Regions from separate parts of the Homo sapiens genome. Here all the other regions are reported to be linked to region 4. Evidence: microRNA targets listed by miRTarBase, many of them from high-throughput screens and not tested one by one. Region 4 holds a microRNA gene; each other region holds the end of a gene's coding sequence. Distances are between the middles of the regions.
The links. The annotated mature microRNA hsa-miR-4317 reads ACAUUGCCAGGGAGUUU and lies in region 4 at 766-782, opposite strand. An mRNA with a match to its seed (bases 2 to 7 or 8) in the 3' UTR can be bound and repressed. Matches are read on the target gene's strand: a 7mer-m8 pairs with bases 2 to 8, a 7mer-A1 pairs with bases 2 to 7 and ends in A, and an 8mer does both.

Region 1: miRTarBase lists AREL1 as a target of hsa-miR-4317. Seed matches in the 3' UTR shown: 7mer-m8 at 1,202-1,208.
Region 2: the mRNA of SRGN is a reported target of hsa-miR-4317. Seed matches in the 3' UTR shown: 7mer-m8 at 420-426.
Region 3: miRTarBase lists INTS6 as a target of hsa-miR-4317. The part of its 3' UTR that is shown has no 7-base or 8-base seed match.
Region 5: the mRNA of SLC35D4 is a reported target of hsa-miR-4317. The part of its 3' UTR that is shown has no 7-base or 8-base seed match.
Region 6: the mRNA of PAOX is a reported target of hsa-miR-4317. The part of its 3' UTR that is shown has no 7-base or 8-base seed match.

What each region holds. Positions count from the first base shown.
Region 1 is chr14:74,661,086-74,664,188 of GRCh38, forward strand. It overlaps AREL1 (apoptosis resistant E3 ubiquitin protein ligase 1), which reads right to left. Exons shown (of 20, transcript NM_001039479.2): 19 at 2,814-2,989; 20 at 171-2,737. The coding sequence ends at 2,635. Among named protein-coding and RNA genes, the nearest start is that of LTBP2, 50 kb to the left of the region's middle.
Region 2 is chr10:69,103,728-69,106,830 of GRCh38, forward strand. It overlaps SRGN (serglycin), which reads left to right. Exons shown (of 3, transcript NM_002727.4): 3 at 144-1,078. The coding sequence ends at 393. Among named protein-coding and RNA genes, the nearest start is that of SRGN, 17 kb to the left of the region's middle.
Region 3 is chr13:51,363,278-51,366,380 of GRCh38, forward strand. INTS6 (integrator complex subunit 6) reads right to left here. Exons shown (of 18, transcript NM_012141.3): 18 at 1-2,568. The coding sequence ends at 2,475. It overlaps SERPINE3 (serpin family E member 3), which reads left to right. Exons shown (of 10, transcript NM_001386375.1): 10 at 962-1,458. The coding sequence ends at 1,005. Among named protein-coding and RNA genes, the nearest start is that of MIR5693, 16 kb to the left of the region's middle.
Region 4 is chr18:6,373,634-6,376,736 of GRCh38, forward strand. It overlaps MIR4317 (microRNA 4317), which reads right to left and starts at 792; the gene lies at 728-792. All of the region lies in intron 1 of L3MBTL4 (L3MBTL histone methyl-lysine binding protein 4), which reads right to left.
Region 5 is chr18:23,295,360-23,298,462 of GRCh38, forward strand. It overlaps SLC35D4 (solute carrier family 35 member D4), which reads right to left. Exons shown (of 15, transcript NM_032933.6): 15 at 654-2,708. The coding sequence ends at 2,648. Among named protein-coding and RNA genes, the nearest start is that of SLC35D4, 140 kb to the right of the region's middle.
Region 6 is chr10:133,391,201-133,394,303 of GRCh38, forward strand. It overlaps PAOX (polyamine oxidase), which reads left to right. Exons shown (of 7, transcript NM_152911.4): 7 at 112-494. The coding sequence ends at 255. MTG1 (mitochondrial ribosome associated GTPase 1) reads left to right here and starts at 2,957. Exons shown (of 11, transcript NM_138384.4): 1 at 2,957-3,103. The coding sequence starts at 3,021. RefSeq lists a silencer at 2,749-3,098.

The sequences.
Region 1 (3,103 bases), not on the chromosome of region 4:
GTGAAAGGGCAAGAGTGGGACAGGCCAGGACTCCAGGTGTACACTCTACCCCGAGCCGACCACTTCAGGAGGAATTCCTGGGGAAATGCAAAATCATTTCCAAATCTTTTCCTTCCCCACCTTCCAGTCAAGCCATGAATCTCCATTTAAAGCAGCCACTCACTCCTTAGTTCTTTTAAACATTTATTTATCTACTGTACAAAATATTTACATCATCAGCTGCAACTGCCTGGCCCTTTCACCTGGCCTGACGAATCTGCAGCAGGGCTTGGTCTCTGCCAATTTTCCAGAAACATGCTGACACTCTCCTAGGTATTCACTCATGTCTGGTCTCCTTCAAAGACGCTAAAAGGCCAGAAGGGTAGCTGGCCCCCCAAGTACCTGGGTCACAAGGACATAAATAAAAGAACTGGCCAAAATAAGAAACACTAATAGAAAATTGCCCAAGAAATAACACTCTCTCATCTCTTTGACATATTGTACCTTTTCCCCACACTGGCTAGTATGAAAGCAGGATTAGAAAAAAAAAAAACAAAACAGTAAAAGAAAAGGCCCAAGAGAGCAAAGATACTTTTGAATAGAGTTCAGACAGAGAATAGAAAACCACAATAGTGCCAAAGGGTTTTGTTTAACAAAGACTGGTGCCTAAGGACCACCACAGGGATGCAGCTTCCCTGGTTGGGTTGCAATGGTGCCTAAGATGCTCTGAAAAAGTGCTATGACTAGAGCTTAAAATGACAGGTCTAGCCAAGACAATCAACTCAATCTCCAGGATCAGTCTCTGGAAGGCTGCCGGAGGGGAGAATTCAGAAAAGCGACTGCCAAAAACAGCAGAACCAGTCCACGTGCCCCCAGCTGGAAACCCCTTTCTGGGCCCAAGGGGCAGCATTATGTTTCCCAGGGTGGTGATAAACCTTCCGGTACATATCCCATGGGAAAACATTTGGGCAAGCAGCAGCACCTTGTCCTGGTCCCTGAGGAGAGCAGTGACCATGTGGCATGGAGGATCCTGGGGTATAGAGACCCTGATGCTGGATCCCGGACCCCAAGGATGAGTGAGGTCAGCACCCATGTGCCAAGAAAGGACAAATGATGACTGCGAAAGACTGAGGTCAGGCAGGAACTGTAGCAGCTCAGGAGGGCTTGTTCCTCATGATCCCTGCGAACAGGAGGGCTCAGACATGCTTCCAGGAGGCCAAGGCATTGCCAAAGTCCTGCCTTGTTTCAGGACTCTGTGTACTTGCTGGTTTTGGCAATAAAGATGGCTTGTAATATTCTCAGAGTTGACTGCCCCATTGGGAATGGTAGCTTGCAGCAAAGCCTTCTTAAAAACACAAATTTGGGAAGTCAATGAGATTTTGAATCTTGAAATTATTTTCAATCAAACAGTAATGAAAAAGGATGTTGTCATCTTCCAAGATACAGCAGCAGGTACTCTTCAATCATCATTCAACAGTGAACCTAATAAGCTTCCTCCCTCCTTAGTTCTCCTTCCTGATAACTGATGGAGCAAAGGGGAGTACAGGGGTTGGCAGGTGTTTACTGTGTAACATATCACCTCCATGTTCATCCCTAGTGTCCTGACGCCAAGGACCTGTGATAAGCACGTAAACTCCTAGTCCCTGTTCCTTTGTCTTAGTGCTGCCAGAGAACACCAAGCAGAGAGAGAATCAGGGATTGCTGGCATACTATTCTTACTGTTCTAATCTTTTGCTACAAAATTTTCTTCAGTAGAATGCTAAAGGATCCCCAGCTTTTAGCAGACTACATAATGGGGAAGTCAGTGGCCCAAGCCGGCCATACTTCAGTGCCAATAACAAACTCAGGGAAAAGCATCAGTAGTCTCCAAGCCAGCCATATGCCTAGGCATGCCCCACTCTGGAGGCTACAGCTCAGCTATCCTTCATATTCTTCAGTCTATCTGCTTTTCTCACTGGCTACAATTCAAGAAAAAGCTTACAGAGTTCTTCTTTGTGGATTAATAATCATTTCCAGAAATGCCCGAAGGGAAAGTGCTTTTTCCAGTTCTGACACCACAAAAAAATATTCTTTTTAGCAGTCCTTAGAGGCAGTCCAGTGCCATGGCCTATGCCTACCATTGTGCAGCGGGACTGCTCCTATGGGCCACCTCCTATCTGTCCCCCTCTCTCCTGGCTCCTGATGAGAAGAGGCAATCACCCCACCCATGAGAAGGACTCAAGTACCAGTCTGGTCAAGTAGTGAGGGCCAAAGAGGGTGTCTCCAAGGAGTATCAGCAGAGGGAGTTTTGGAGCACAGTGTGGATTTAAGGGTCTCCACACCAGTTTCCCAACAGGGCTGAGCCCCGTGTGCCATCTCCCTCAGCTACTGAGATCTTCAAAGGACCAAATAAATGATAGCAGCATGGTCCTCTTCTCATGACAGAATGAAGAGCTCAGCTTACATACCATGCCAAAGTGGCCTGTGGTAGATATGGGCAGGGAGCAGGTGAGGTAAAGACAAGGCTTGTAGGTGACAAAATCCTCCAGACACAGGGGAGCATGCGGCATCTTCTGGCTGATGGTTATGTGTGTTAGGATCAGTGGTTATGATGTCTGTAACTTGCGCCCAGAAGCTCCAGAGAGCATGGGAGCCAACTGGATGACAGGAGAGTGGTCAGAGCATGCCAAAGCCCTCGCAACCCTCGCTGATGGCCAGCTGCAGCATCCTGTGCACCTCTTCATAGGAGTCATATGTAGGGAGGCACAGCTGGTTAAAACTGGAAGGGCAAGGGAGAAGTGATTAACTCATACCACCAAAAACACTGGGCATGCATCAGGCGGGCAGATACCTACCATGTGTGTGCAGTAGGCAGCGTGCTATGGGTCGGAGCGGCAATAATCTGAAATGAGGGACAGAGGGCGGCAAAGCCTCCAGGTGGTAGCTGAGAGGAGCCTGTTGTGAACTGAAGTAGCCGAGCCAACTCCTCCTGGGTCAGACTGGAAACCACAGTCCAAAACCACCTCATGACCTGGCAGGGAGAGCACAAGGCTGGGATCACACACAGTAAACAAGCTAGGATTAGATCCCTGGGGAAGGAACAAGATACACTAAAGTGGGGCTGTGCCCCAGTTACCGTTCTATG
Region 2 (3,103 bases), not on the chromosome of region 4:
AATAATTGGGAAGCTTTTAAATCTCTTAATTTGAGCAACTAGATGGCTGTATTTATCTCCTTATATTAAAAAAACTATTATAATTATCTTTCCCACATATCAAACTCCACTGGTTTTTTTCCCATTTTTCTTTCATACTTCAGAAAGACGAGAATCCAGGACTTGAATCGTATCTTCCCACTTTCTGAGGACTACTCTGGATCAGGCTTCGGCTCCGGCTCCGGCTCTGGATCAGGATCTGGGAGTGGCTTCCTAACGGAAATGGAACAGGATTACCAACTAGTAGACGAAAGTGATGCTTTCCATGACAACCTTAGGTCTCTTGACAGGAATCTGCCCTCAGACAGCCAGGACTTGGGTCAACATGGATTAGAAGAGGATTTTATGTTATAAAAGAGGATTTTCCCACCTTGACACCAGGCAATGTAGTTAGCATATTTTATGTACCATGGTTATATGATTAATCTTGGGACAAAGAATTTTATAGAAATTTTTAAACATCTGAAAAAGAAGCTTAAGTTTTATCATCCTTTTTTTTCTCATGAATTCTTAAAGGATTATGCTTTAATGCTGTTATCTATTTTATTGTTCTTGAAAATACCTGCATTTTTTGGTATCATGTTCAACCAACATCATTATGAAATTAATTAGATTCCCATGGCCATAAAATGGCTTTAAAGAATATATATATATTTTTAAAGTAGCTTGAGAAGCAAATTGGCAGGTAATATTTCATACCTAAATTAAGACTCTGACTTGGATTGTGAATTATAATGATATGCCCCTTTTCTTATAAAAACAAAAAAAAAAATAATGAAACACAGTGAATTTGTAGAGTGGGGGTATTTGACATATTTTACAGGGTGGAGTGTACTATATACTATTACCTTTGAATGTGTTTGCAGAGCTAGTGGATGTGTTTGTCTACAAGTATGATTGCTGTTACATAACACCCCAAATTAACTCCCAAATTAAAACACAGTTGTGCTGTCAATACCTCATACTGCTTTACCTTTTTTTCCTGGATATCTGTGTATTTTCAAATGTTACTATATATTAAAGCAGAAATATAACCAAAGGTTAAGCTGTCTCGGATCTGTTGTTCTAAACCCAGGAAACAGTTATTTTTGGCCAGACGTTTCTCCAGAAGTCTTATCAACAAAACAACTTTAAACGTATTCTACAGTAAACACAAGTTTTGTAACCAGAATCAAATCATACTAACTAGCAAATGAAGAAAGCAATGATGCCTTAGCAAGAGGGTTATATATCTCAAAGCACTTCCTCACCTGAAAGATAGTTCCATCTCTGTTCCCCTTAGTTCTGAAAAGCCCCCTTACATCACCATCCTGGATTCTGTTCTGTACTGTCCAGATCCCAGCTCCAGAACTGAGTACTTACTCAAATTAATCTCCTCAGGAGAGAGCCACCTTGCCCAAGGTCATGCTGCTTTGCAGGGCAGCCTGCATCCAGTGACTGGCTGATGTGGGCATATCAAGGCCTGAACTCAGAATAGTCATACAGATTCAAAACTCCCCACAGGATCAGCTCCAGTTTTGCTGGGACTACTTTGTAGCTCAGTTTCTTCTTTACTCAATTTTACTTCCTTCCATTCCGCTCATAGGTTTCTATCCTGAGAGTGCTCCCTTAGAAATTTTCTGCTAGTTTCCATCTCAGAATTTGCTTCTAGGAGAACACAACTTGTGACAGGTTGTGCCAGGAGGGATAAGAAATGGATGCTAAGATGGGATTTTGGAGCTAGATTGCCTGCTGTCTGGCTGGCAATGAGGACTCCATCCTTGGCCATAGATGAGCACAGGCACAAGATAGCAGTGCAATTGTTAAAACTTTCACTGGTGATGAACCAAGATGGTATACCAGTGGAAGGGAGTGCACTAGGGTGTGATGTACTAGGCATCTGAGAAATGTTGGCAAGTAGTAATAATAAAGACAATGGTATTGGTTGGCTATTGCTGGACTTAATTAATGCTTTTGAAAAAGACAATGAAAGGCTAAGGACAATTAATTAAAAGCTAAATGTGAAAACCATTGGGCCTCCTTGGCAGCATATTAAGAAACTCTCTTCTGTAATAGAAGGAATTAAAAAGCTGAGGACCAGGCCCAGGACTTATGAGAATAGCAGATGGCTGGGTGTGGTGGCTCACGCCTGCAATCCCAACGCTTTGGGGGGCTGAGGCAGGTGGATCACCTGAGGTCAGGAGTTTGAGATCAGCCTGGCCAACATGGCGAAACACTGTCTCTACTAAAAATACAAAAATTAGCCAGGTGTGGTGACAGGCATCTATAATCCCAGCTACTCCGGAGGCTGAAGCAGGAGAATTGCTTGAACCTAGGAGGTTCAAACCTGGGAGGTTGCAGTGAGCTGAGATCATGTCACTGCAATCCAGCCTGGGTGACAGAGGGAGACTCTATCTCAAAAAAAAAAAAAAAATAGCAGAGTTCCAAGAATATTAAATTGTCAGCTTAGCCCAGTCTGTTATGCAAGCTCAGAGTCCTTACTGGGGAAAAATAGGACCCTGAGAGATGGAAACATCTGGGCTGATACATTCAAGTTTTAAATCCTCAGATTCCTTTGAACCTCTGAATCTACAGAAGAGTCCCATGCTTTAAGGACCGATGCTGGCCAGGTGTGGTGGCTCATGCTTGTAATCCCAGTACTTTGGGAGGCTGAGGCGGGCAGATCACTTGAGGTCAGGAGTTCAAGACCAGCCTGGCCAACACAGTGAAACCCTGTCTCTACTAAAAATACAAAAATTAGCTGGTTGTGGTGGCGAGCACCTGTAATCCTACTCGGCAGGCTGAGGTATGAGAATCACTTGAACCTGGGAGGTGGAGTTTGCAATGAGCCGAGATCACGCCACTGCACTCCAGCCTGGGTGACAGAGCGAGACTCTGTCTCAAAAAAAAAAAAAAAAAAAAAAAACAAAACAAAAAACAGCAATCAAAAAACAAAAAAACTAGTGCTTTCCTGTTGAAGACAATCAAGAGGCCTCTACCCTTAAAGACAACACTCACTCTCCTTCAAGATCTGTCCCCACCTCCCTTCCTAGACAGCAGATAAATATCAAAGTTAAGTCAGTAT
Region 3 (3,103 bases), not on the chromosome of region 4:
AGGATAATCCAAAACCAGTTCCACAATCCACTGGAATTCTAATAGTCCTTGTGACTTTACCTCTATCTGGGAGGCATTAGCCTACATCACACAACACAGTGGCTGCTCTTCTGGTGATGGTTATGGAAGAGTTTAGAAATGAGTCTCAGCCTTCATTATTTCCAACTGACAAATCTTACTAAGAGCAACTAATGAATCAATCAGCAAATGAGAAACATGGGAGACATTAAAAAAAAAGATTTGAAAACCTCAAGATTAAACTTTCCAAGAATATCATTTGTCGAGCCTTAAGTCATTCAGTGACATAAAGGGCCTAAAAGACATGATGTTTCCCCTAGATGTATTTCCCTTCCCCTTTGACAATAATTCTACAACAAGTATTCTAATTTAACTAATATACCCATTTTTTTTTTAAATGAAAAAAGCCTGAGGGAGATGAGATATTAACCTTTAGTTCTGATAGGTTTCAAACCCTCCTGACCAGGTTTTAGGATGAGGTGAGAACAGTGGCAGAGAGATAAAGGACAAAAAGAAGAGATGAACAAAACTGCTACTTCTCACCTCCCTCCAGGGTTCATTCAGAAAAATGTATTAAAGGTCATGAGCAATCTGTGAAACAGAAAATAAAACTTTCTGATAAGGAAAGCTGCTCAATATTGGGATGGGCTGAATCTCTTTCCTAGATACTCTTGTTAAGTATGAATTTTTATCTGAATGACTTCTAATTCCTCCTAGTAATTCCAGAATCTAAATATATATAATTTAGGAACAGACAATATATTCTGGATTTTGTGTAACTCTCAATGAATTTAGCAATGTGACTACAGGCAATTACCTTAACAATTCCATCTATTAAATGTTATCTTGCATTACTTAAAAGTATTTGTATAGAAGTAAACAAAGCTTAAAGAACTGCATATGAAAATACTATATAATATTAAATTCTTCTTTTTCTTGACAGGGTTTGTCTTCAGTATTGGGAGAGTTTCAAATCCCCTAGACTAAATGCATGTTCTCCACTTTCATCAATGCTTTTCTTCATAAAGTTATAATTTCATTTTGCTATACCCTTGAAATTTAAAAAAATGTCTGATAAAGTGTAAAAAGCTAAGGGTATGTGATTTTCAATATTATAAACCTAAAAATACTTCAGTTTTTAAATGTTATAAGTTTATTTTGCCTACTCTTAATCCAAATCTATTTTGACCTTCTTTTCTACTGCTTACCCCCCAAACCACTAAAAGGCACAGCAGTGATCATGAATGGTGAGTGAGTCAGGCCATAAGATTGCTTCCTCAGTACGGATACTCTAGGCCATGTTGAATTGAGGGTGGAGAATGAATAGCGTGGTTTTCCTTATCCTGTGAAACTCAGGGGGGATGCAAAATGAGCAAAGTCATCTTAAAGGTGTTTCCTTTCCATTTAGCTTATAAATAAAACAGAGTTTAAGTGTGAGAACAGCAGAGCAGAACAAGGAGGCCTCCAATTTGTTGTGGGCTTTTGCAAGCATGGCATGAAGCTGCTAAAGGCTAGATATTTCAGAGCATGTACTGTACTCCAAACCTACCACTCCCTAACAGCTTCAGCTTCGTGCCATCCACAATCCTAGTGATAAAGGAAAAGGTGTTGAAGTAAGGAAACCAATAATATCCAAAGTTGTTTGCTTTTTAAATAGCTTTTAAAGTATCTGTCTATCTGCCCCATACAAAGTCATTCCCATAATCTAGGCAGAAATGGGAGTATGTTGGCATGGCCAACAAAAACTACGAACATATAGTAAAAAGGCAATGCAGATTATGTAACATGTAATTACAGTTAGGCTTAACAAACATGAACTTCAAGTGGTGTATTTTTCCAATGCTAAAAAGCAAGGCCTTTAAAATTCCATTATCTTAGGATGTTTTTAAATGATTACTTTAAATGTGATTATTTCCTAAACCACACAAGAGTAAAATAGAGCATTTATTGATGGAATAACAAAAGTGCTTTTCTTAAATATTCTTCAAAATACATTTGTACAACTTACAATAATATATCCAAAATAACTGTATATACAAAACATTACCTAGTTTTAATGTATGTGCTTTTTTCCCCAAAAATTACAAAGTAACTTCTTTTTTTTTTGGCAAAGTTCAACCTTAACAGAGGTGACAATTTTAAAGGTTGGTTTAAGAAAATAGAACCTGAGGGAAATTGACACGCAAGAGTCAATGACAAGCAAGAGATTTGGAGGAATATTTTTAGTTTGTTAAATTAAAAATGTTTTTTAGAGTGATACTTTTCACATTACAAAAATAAACCAAAATGAAGAAAAGGTCACTGTAAAATGATGGAAAAAGGATCTGTAGATTTGCTTTTAGTATTTCAAATAGCCAACAATGCATGTCAGAAAATGAATGCAAGATCACAACAGTCTTGTATTTACTTTGTATTTGAAGAAGATAGTGAAATAAGTGGCCACATTCTATTTTCTTTTAATTGCTATTAATATGGTTGATCTGATTGGCTCTTCGATGAATTTCATCCAAGAAGTTCTCCAGTTGTTCTATTAGCATTCGTTTTTTAAACCTGTATGAAAAAATAAATAGTACTCTCAATTACTTTTTAATGAATAGTATATATCAGTATAATTTTTTTAAGAAAGGAGAGAAAATTTTGGGAAGATTTTTCAAAGTGAAATGAAAATAGAAAAATCAATACTACGACAATATAAAATATGTTGAAAGATTAGCAAATTATTATCCTAGTACAGTATTATAGTTTGTCCCTAAAACACTCTAGGGCTAAACAATGGGAAAGAGGTTGTTCCTTCCACAACCGAAAAGAAAAAGGAAAAAACAAACAAAAAAACAAAAAACTAATATATTCAAAATATATTCAAGGGCTGCAAACACTCTAGTGAAATTTGGGCTCCCCAAGCAAATACTTCAATAGCTTCTTCTCATGCTCTTTGTAAGCTGAATATTGAAAGGAATGTGAACAAAGTATGAATATAATCTCCCACAAAATGGAAGAAGAAATGAAAATTGGTCAGCAGCATTTAAAAACCATGGTATTCTATTACAATTTGAGAGCTAGCAAATCAAGGATAGACATCTATAAT
Region 4 (3,103 bases):
CTCAATTAAACAGATTATGCACCGTACAAAATACATCTTCGAGTGAATCACAGTAGGAAAATCCCACAGAAAGTACAAGGGAATTATAGTGCAGGCCTTGCTTTACAAACTCCATCAGATCTGCCCAAATGTCAAGTGAATTGATAAAAAAAAAAAACCCACTTTACCACTTCCATAAACTAAAATGTTAAAATATAATAATAATAAACTTGAATGTGACAGATTACTCAAAGGAAAAACTGTGTTATTTTGTTTTGTTTTGTTTCCTAAGATACTGACAAAGCTAAATTATTGGGGTTTTTTTAAGGAAGGTCTTAGAAATTCATAGCAGAAACAAAATTTTTGGGTTTAAGAGAGGACTTTTCTTCATTGTTGTAATTTTTCATCTTCCATGTGTATCAGTGGTCTCTGAAGAATTCAAGTAAAATAAAAGCCCTCCCTGGTTGCCCACATTTCCCCTGTGAACACACAAACAGCAGATGTACATGCCCGCCCTTCACACTCCTGCTACATCTTCCTGAAAATCCAGCTCTGGAGTGGCAGTGGCTGGGTTCAAATCCAGTCACTGCCACTGAACAGCTGTGACTTGGGCGAGTCACTTATCCCCTGTGCTCTGGTTCTTTTTTGTGTAAAATGCCAATAACAACAGCACCAAGCACACAGAGCTGTCACGAGGATTACATGGGTTAACACCGGCAAAGGGCTTAGGACCAAGCCTGGCACGCTAGTGTTTGCTAAAACATTTTATCAAGAGAGCTACAAAATAAACTCCCTGGCAATGTCTCGCCTTTTAGATGCAAGGCAACATTGAGGTCTACTTCATCCGCAAAGTCCACATTTCTTTTGTGGGATTGTGCCTAACAGGAAGTGAGTGTCAACAAATATTCGTGGGACAGATGGATACAAAAAGCTGTACAAATAAAGAAGCAAATGACCTCTTCCATGATTACAGTCAAAATTCCAAAGGGCTTCATTAAAGTCAAATCACCAGAATGGTAAACTGGAGCCTGCGTGCTGTTCTCACCACTAAGTGGTACTTCCTGCCCTTCCACAGTGAGTCCTGGTCCCAGTGAAAACACGATAGAACCAGTCACGCCCCGCCTCTCCTCATCGTAAGAAAGCTGCCCACTGAGACCATCCCACACTCGCCACCACCATTTCCCTCAACACTGCCACTTCTATTACTGGCAGTTATTGCCAGTACTAAAACATGAGGCAAAATGAAATTTCTAAAGCACCGTGAAATCTATGGAAAAATATTCAGAAGCAAAGCTTTCAATTAATTCAGTATTTAAATGAAATTCATTTCAGACACAATTCGATAAAGCCTTCATATTCTGAAGAAATTCCCAATAGTATGAAAAAATATATAGGTTTCCAAAAAGCTTCTGCTTTGGTGCATTGGGAAACTCGGGCTGCTCTTGCAGTGTAACGCAGTCTGATCTGCAGAATTAATTCAGACGTCCACACAGGAACTGCAAACCCTGACTCACAGGTGCCTTCCACTGGCGGCCACCTAGATCACTGCATCTGCCCCAGTCGATACAGGAACTCCAGTCTTTATACCTTCCAAACTTACTGTCCATATGTGGACCTAAAATGCCTCTACGGCTTGGCTCTCTCTCCCCCATTTATGGCCCCTCCATGGCTCTCCCGCCCTAAGGATAAAGTCCAGGCTGCCACGGCTTCTGAGGCACCTCCTGACCTGGCTCCCCACCTGACCAGCCGACTTCTCTTCCCAGCCAGACTGTGCTACAACCTGACTTTGTGCGCTCTCTTCTCACCTCCTACCTGGAGCCACCTTCCCACCACCTCGCTGCCCCTCAGACCTCCGTGTAAATGTCATTTCCTTGGATGCCTCCTGCAACCACCACCCCGATCCCAGGCTAGGTGAGGGACACTTCCACAGCCAGCGCTTCCCTTAGCATGACACTCAGCACTTTTCATCCTAGTTCCTTTACTTGAGCCCTCCGAGAGGGCTCTTTGTCACTGTATCTCCAGCACCTGGAATAACGTCTGGGGCACAGGAGGTCGTCAATACCAATTTAGTAAATGAGATGACAATGGCTTAACTGCAACAGTCAGGATGAGAAATAGAGAAGAACCCAAAAAGAATGGGGTGGAATCCAATAGGACCTGGTGACAGAACAGACATGGGCAATAATAAAGAAAGAAGGGCCTGGCCTGGATGTCAAATCTCCACTGGGGCAGCAATGTGAGCAGAGCCACTCAACAAGAAATAGGCAAAAGCACAAACTCAGGCGAGGGCACTAGTTTAGGTTTAGACACGCTAAAAACATGAGGTGTCCCAAAACATGTGGCTACAGTGTTGTGGCTAAGAACTCATCCCTGCCCTGCTCAAGTTGCCAGTAGCTTCCCAGCACATTAAGGAAACTCCAAACTCGTCACTGAGTCCTACAAGGCCACATATGGACTGGGTCTAGCCCCTCAAGCTCTCCGACCCCACTGTCTCAGTCTGCTTTCTCCCTGCTCGCCTCACTGGCAACAGTGGCCCTCCCACTGTCCCCAGAGGTGCCCAGCAAAATGCTCCTCAGCACCTGTGCACTCACTGCAGCCCACCTGGAGCACGGCACCCAAATCCTTGCAGGGCTTCCTGCTTCTCTTAATGTAGGTCCCACTTCAAACATCACCTCCTCCTGTCAGTCGTGAAAATTATCCACAGTAGCACCCCCTGACTCGCTGTCACATCAGTCTGTTTTAGTTTAATCACTAAACACTTGATGAAATTACACTGTCTGTTCATTTGTTTTGCATATTTGTTGTCTGTCTATCCTATCTACAGGGTACATAAAGTAAGGCCCCAGCTGCGCACAGTGGCTCATGCCTATAATCCCAGCACTTTGGGAGGTTGAAGTGGGAGGATTGCTTGGGACCAGGAGTTTCAGACCAGCCTGGGCTGGGGAGACCCCATCTGTACAACAACAACAACAAAAATTAGCTGAGTGTGGTGGTGTGTACCTGTAGTCCCAGCTACTCGGGAGGCTGAGATGGGAGGATCACTTGGACATGGGAGGTTGAGGCTGCAGTGAGCCTTGATGGCATCACTGCACTCCAGCCTGGGTGACAGAGTGAGACCTTGTCT
Region 5 (3,103 bases), 17 Mb from region 4:
AATAAAAAAAATTTAAATTAAAAAAGTAGAGACTCTTCAAAGTGAGAAGGTATGTCAGGCAGCTACTATTATTTTTCCTCCAAATTAATAAGTGTAAGGTACCTGTTTAATCAGCTGGAGGTTAGAAAAAAAATAATATAAATATTTTTCATGGAAACAAACAAGACAAAACAACAACAACAAAAGTAAGTTGAAAGCCATATGTGTTAAGGTCACTCTTAGCATTTTTACCTTACATGACAAGCAGAGACCAGGAAAAGACAAGGACATGAATTTAAGGTACTCAAGTTCCAAATACACGAATCCATTGCTAGTTGTTTCTTTTTCTCTCTTTTCTCAACAAGTTGGGGAACACATGCAGAGGCAACAACAGCCACCGACTGAGTTGACTATATTCTCCATGGGGCTGAGTATGGACAAGGCGTATTTCCCGGACGCCATGGGCAGGGGGTCTCCATCAATGACGTGGATATTCAACACTACAGGGCCTGGCTCCCTGCTTGCGGAGGACTCATGGGTCACCCTGAATGGCCCAAACTCTCTGATACCTGGCAGAGTGGTAAGGTATTTGAAACATCTATTAGGAACAGAAATATTTATAGTTAGTCATTATTTTCTTAAACCTTCTTGGTGGGTTCAGAAACAAGTGACCATTTTGTGTAAATTCATTTATTTTGGAGCAATGAGAACACATGGACATAGGGAGGGGAACATCACACACCAGGGCCTGTCAGGGGATGGAGGGCTAGGGGAGGGATAACATTAGGGGAAATACCTAATGTAGGTGACAGGTTGATGGGTGCAGCAAACCACCATGGCACGTGCATACCTATGTAACAAACCTGCACATTCTGCACGTGTACCCCAGAACTTAAAGTATAATAATAAAAAAAAGAAAAAAGAAGTTCATTTATTTTGACTCCTACAAAGGCAAGGAATAGGGTTTTTGTTGTTGTTGTTGTTTTTGAGACTGTCTCGCTCTGTTGCCCAGGCTGGAGTGCAGTGGCGTAATTTTGGCTCACTGCAACCTCCGCCTCCCAGGTTCAAGCAATTCTCCTACCTCAGCCTCCTAAGTAGCTGGGACTACAGGCACACAACACCACATCAGGCTAATTTTTTTGTAGTTTTAGTAGAGACAGGGTTTCACCATGTTGGCCAGGTTTGTCTTGAACTCCCGACCTCAGGTGATCTGCTTACTTCGGCCTCCCAAAGTGCTGGGATTATAGGCGTGAGCCACTGCGCCTGACCAGGAATAGGGTTTTAATACAATTTTTCATCTGGCCTGAAAAATATACTTCAGTGTTCAATGATTTGAAATCTCTGAGATATCAGGGAATGAAAGGGATTAAAAGCTTTAAGAAATATAAATATAAATGTGTATGTGTGTGTGTATACATATACTATTTTTTTTTTTTTTGCCCAGGGAAGACATCTGTCAGTGCTCATAAACCCTGTTTCCTCTGGGGATAAGTTAGTACCAGCTTAACCTGAGGGTGGGCAAAAAAAGGACATGCAGAATTCAACGCAACACACATCCTGACAAGTTTATAAGGACCACGAGAAGTTTAGAGGCAGGAAATAAATAGTAACACCAACCATAAAAAGGCTGTCACTCACTCTAGAGTTTAAAATGCTCGTACGCAGGTGGCGGTGGGCCTTAGGCAAGCCAGCATGACAGCAAAGAAAGGACGGACCCAGAGGAGACTCCAAGGATGTAAAAACATGAATGAAACAAAACATACAACCAAGCCTCACCACAAAAATGACAACCGTGTGAGGTAATGCATTTGTGAGCTAGATTTAACCATTCCCAAAGCATTGTGTTGTGCGTGATAAATGCGCACTGTTACGTCTGTCAATTTAAAAATAAAAATGAGAAAGGCCGGGTGCAGTGGCTCATGCCTGTAATCTCAATACTTTGAGGCCAAGGTGGGAGGATTGCTTGAGCCCAGGAGTTTGAGACCAGCCTGGCCAACACAGTGAGATCCCCATCTCTAAAATAATAAAAATAGAAAAAATGAGACGGGTCTGGTGGTGCACATCAGCTACTGTGGATGCTGAGGCAGGAGGATGGCTTGATCCTAGGAGGTCAAGGCTGTAGCGAGCTGTGATCGCACCACTGTGCTTCAGCCTAGGCGATAGAGTGAGGCCTTGTCTCTAAAAAATAATAATAAATAAAAATTTAAAATTTTAAAAATGAAAAAAAAAAAAGACAACCAAACCCCTTAGGCCCACTACCTTGCACTGAAAGCAGTGTTTGGGAGAGAGCATGTGGCATCCAGAGGTGTGAAGCTCAGTCGAGGCGAGCAGAGCCAGCCCATGAAATCCTGTACTTCCTGTTTCTGCAGAACCAGCTACAGCACGGTTGAGAGAGGTTCTCCAAATGGGAAGATGTAACAGACCGCTCCTCTGCAGTGACCTGCAGACCCCCAGAAAGGGTGCTCCTTGAAGCACCAGGGCCTCGGCCTCATCAGCCACCACCACATTCACTTGGGTGAGGGTGATGGCACTGCCCACCTGGCCTCACTGTCCTTGCATTCCTCTTTCTGACACATCCAACAGGGAGCTATGAGACCAGGGGCTCGTACACAGGTGTACAAGCTGTTCTCCCGCAGCAGCCTGTGAGTCTTTCTCTTGACCGTCTTGTTCAGGAGCTCTTCCGCTCTGAGAAAACCAGCAAGGCCTCTCCAAGCGCACCGAGCAGGAGGCTGCAAACAACAGCAGAAGGTCAGCTCTCCACTCCCCCGGGACCCCTGAGCTGCCTGGCGCCCACATACGCAGGGCAAGGGGTGCTTCCCCTCATCCTGCAACTGAGACTCATCACCAGCCCGAACTGCCATGCTTCCAGGTCAAGCCCAGGAATCGCTCCTATCCCTCAGGGCAGACCTCAGGTACACATGGGAGGTGAGAAGGCAGGGAGGCGGGCTCGATACCTTCCCTTGGGGAAGAAGGTGAAGCGTCCCACACATCCTGACCAGGTGAGGATGATGCACTGGGTTAGTGCTCTCTGGCAGAAACACAGACTTCTGGCAGGAGAGATCCCATAGAGGCCTCTGGTGCTGTTGGCAAATTGGGCTGATGGATAGGAAATCACACAGGTATC
Region 6 (3,103 bases), not on the chromosome of region 4:
AGCTGTTTTCCTGCTTCTTGGTGGATGCTTGTGAGCCATTTTCTGTGTTTCCTTGCCCAGACCCTGCTGTCTGAATTGCATCCCCATTCTAACCCTGGCTCTTCTTTGCAGCTCCAGATCCTGTTTGCGGGGGAAGCCACACATCGCACGTTTTACTCCACGACGCACGGGGCTCTGCTGTCGGGATGGAGGGAGGCCGACCGCCTCCTCAGTCTGTGGGCCCCGCAGGTGCAGCAGCCCAGGCCCAGGCTCTAGCTGGGCCCAGCCTACTCTGTTCCACCCGTGTCGGGGGTAGGCTGGGACCCTCATTTCTTCTGACAGATTTCAGTCTGGCTTGAAATTTGGGGATGTTAATGAGGGTCCTCTGGTTTTTGGTAACCAGGGCCACCTTCTCAGTTCTTGTGTCTGTTATTGGAGTCTGGCCAGGGTTGACTTGAGCTGAGACACCAGATGCTCACGGAGATGCTGGACACATAAAGCAAGTTACAGCCACAGCTCCCAGAGCCATCTTTCCTGCCTTGAGGCTGTCCTGTCCTTCCTGCCTTGGGGCTCCAGCATCTGCTGCTGTTGTCTTTGTCTTGCTCCGGGCCCAGGTTGCACAGGGCCCTGTGTCTCCAATCCCCACAACCACACATGGCCCCACACTCTGGGTTCCCTGAACTCTGGGTCCTGTAGTTGCTTCTCGTGCCCCTGCATTCTCGTGGCTGCTGCCTGGGATGACAGCATAGCTGACAACCCTCCTCTTGCTCATCAACTGATGCTGCATCAGGCGCCCACTTCACAGGTTCGCAGGGCACTGGGGAGATGAGGGGTGCCCTGCCCTGCCCTGAGGCCGGGGGTTTTCTGGAGGAAGTGAATACATAATAAGGCCTGAAAAGAGAAACGGTGCCCAGCCCATGGGAGCCAGGGAGTGTGTGGGGCGTGGGCAGTGCTGGGGTGAGTGTGCTGGGTGCTGGGGGGTGTTGGGGTGGGGGCAGTGCTGGGGTGCTGGGGGGTGTTGGGGTGTGGGTAGTGTTGGGTGCTGGGGGGTGTTGGGGTGAGTGTGCTGGGTGCCGGGGGATGTTGGGGTGTGGGCAGTGCTGGGGTACCACGTGGTATTGGGGTGAATGTGCTGGGAGTCCAGGCCCCTCTCCGGCCCCTCCACCCCAGCCTGGATCTGCAGGGCTCCTCTCTTCTCACCCTCTGGTCTCTGTTCAAATTGCCCCTCCTAGGATGTTCCCTGACCCCACCCTCCCGAGCCCCAGCCTCCCTCTGTAGCCAGCAGCCCCACCTGCATTTGCTGTGTCACCAGACTGTTCTCTCTGGGGACACCTGCCCATCAGACGCCTGGGAGAGAAATTCAGATTCCACAGGGTTTTATTGTGGTTTTGTGCTCCTAGGACCATGAGGGAATGCAGCTTCCTTAAAGTACAAAAATCTTTATCATTGACATTTAGGGTTTCATCAATTCTGTATCCCAGGGAGAAAGGCAGCAAGACCCAGGCTGCCCCCTCTGGGTGTGAGGGACCGGCTTGGTGAGGAGGGGGCTTGGGGGCATTGACCTAGCAGGAGGCCCTGACTGCCCCCACTCAGCCCAGAAACCACCTGGGAGGCTTCTGTCTTCCACGGAGGGGCCACTCTCTCATGCCCAAAAATATTTACAGCTAGGCGTTAGGGTATTAGGTGGTTTAAGAACATCAGAACCATGGCAATATTTTTGTACTTAGAATTTGAGCATGTTTGGTATTTTCAGTAGCTTGTTTAAAAAATTCCAGTAGAGGCTGGGTGCCATGGCTCATGCCTGTAATTCCAGCACTTTGGGAGGCTGAGGTGGGCAGATCACCTGAGGTCAGAGTTCGAGACTAGCCTGGCCAACATGGTGAAACCCCATCTCTACTAAAAATACAAAAAAAGTAGCCGGGCGTGGTGGTGCGCACCTGTAGTCCCAGCTACTCAGGAGGCTAAGGCAGGAGAACTGCTTGAACCCCGGGAGGCGGAGGTTGCAGTGAGCCAAGATCACGCCACTGCACTCCAGCCTGGCGACAGAGCGAGACTCCGTCTCAAAAATAAAAATTCCGGTAGAGTAATACTCTTGTAACGCAGTGTGCAATTGAGCAGTTGCTGACTGCTGATTTAGAGTTGAAATCCGACTATATTTATGTCTAGTCTTGGACAGTGGAGAATATTTCAGCCTCATTAATTAATCGGTTTAATTTAGCAGAACTGCAGTCAGTATTTGGAAACAGTTTGTTATATTAAACCCTGAAGTACTTGAGGCTGCGCGCGGTGGCTCATGCCTGTAATCCCAGCATTTTGGGAGGCCGAGACAGGTAGATCACTTGAGGTCAGGAGTTGGAGACCAGCCTGGCCAACATGGTGGAACTCCATCTCTACTAAAAATACAAAATCAGCCGGCGTGGTGGCAGGCGCCAGTAATCCCAGCTACTCCGGAGGCTGAGGTGGGAGAATCCCTTGAACTCAGGAGTTGGAGGTTGCAATGAGCGAGATCGTGCCACTGCACTCTTGGGCAACAGAGCGGAGACTCCGTCTCAAACAAAACAAAACAAACAAAAACCCTGAAGTACTTAAAAAGAAAATGAAGAGATTACATTTATAAGGTAAATTTAAAGTATTTGAGAGATTTTAACCAAATTGTAAAAAGAGATTGCTAAATTTTTACACTTATACTCAGGATATGCTTAAGGGAGAACGATGATTTTTAATATTTAATGAATGTTAATAAATCTGCGAATTACTTAAACCCACAAAACCCAGGAACCTCCCCGTCCCCCCGGGTCTCCTCGCAGTCCCGCCCCGACGCTCGACCCACCATTCGTCCCTCCCTCTGGGCCCGGGCCCCGCCCACTCCGGGCTTCGCCGGAGGCGGAGGCAACGTCGTGCGCACGCGCAGGCCGTGGTGCGGCCCCTTGGAGCGCCGGAAGCCCGCAGTGCCGGAGGCCCGCAGCGCCGGAACCTCAGAGGCGGGTCGCAGCGGCGCAGAGGAGGTCAGCTGCGGGAGCGTTTCCGGGGACGGTGCCGCCATGAGATTGACCCCGCGCGCGCTGTGCAGCGCCGCCCAGGCCGCCTGGCGGGAGAACTTCCCCCTGTGCGGTCGCGACGTGGC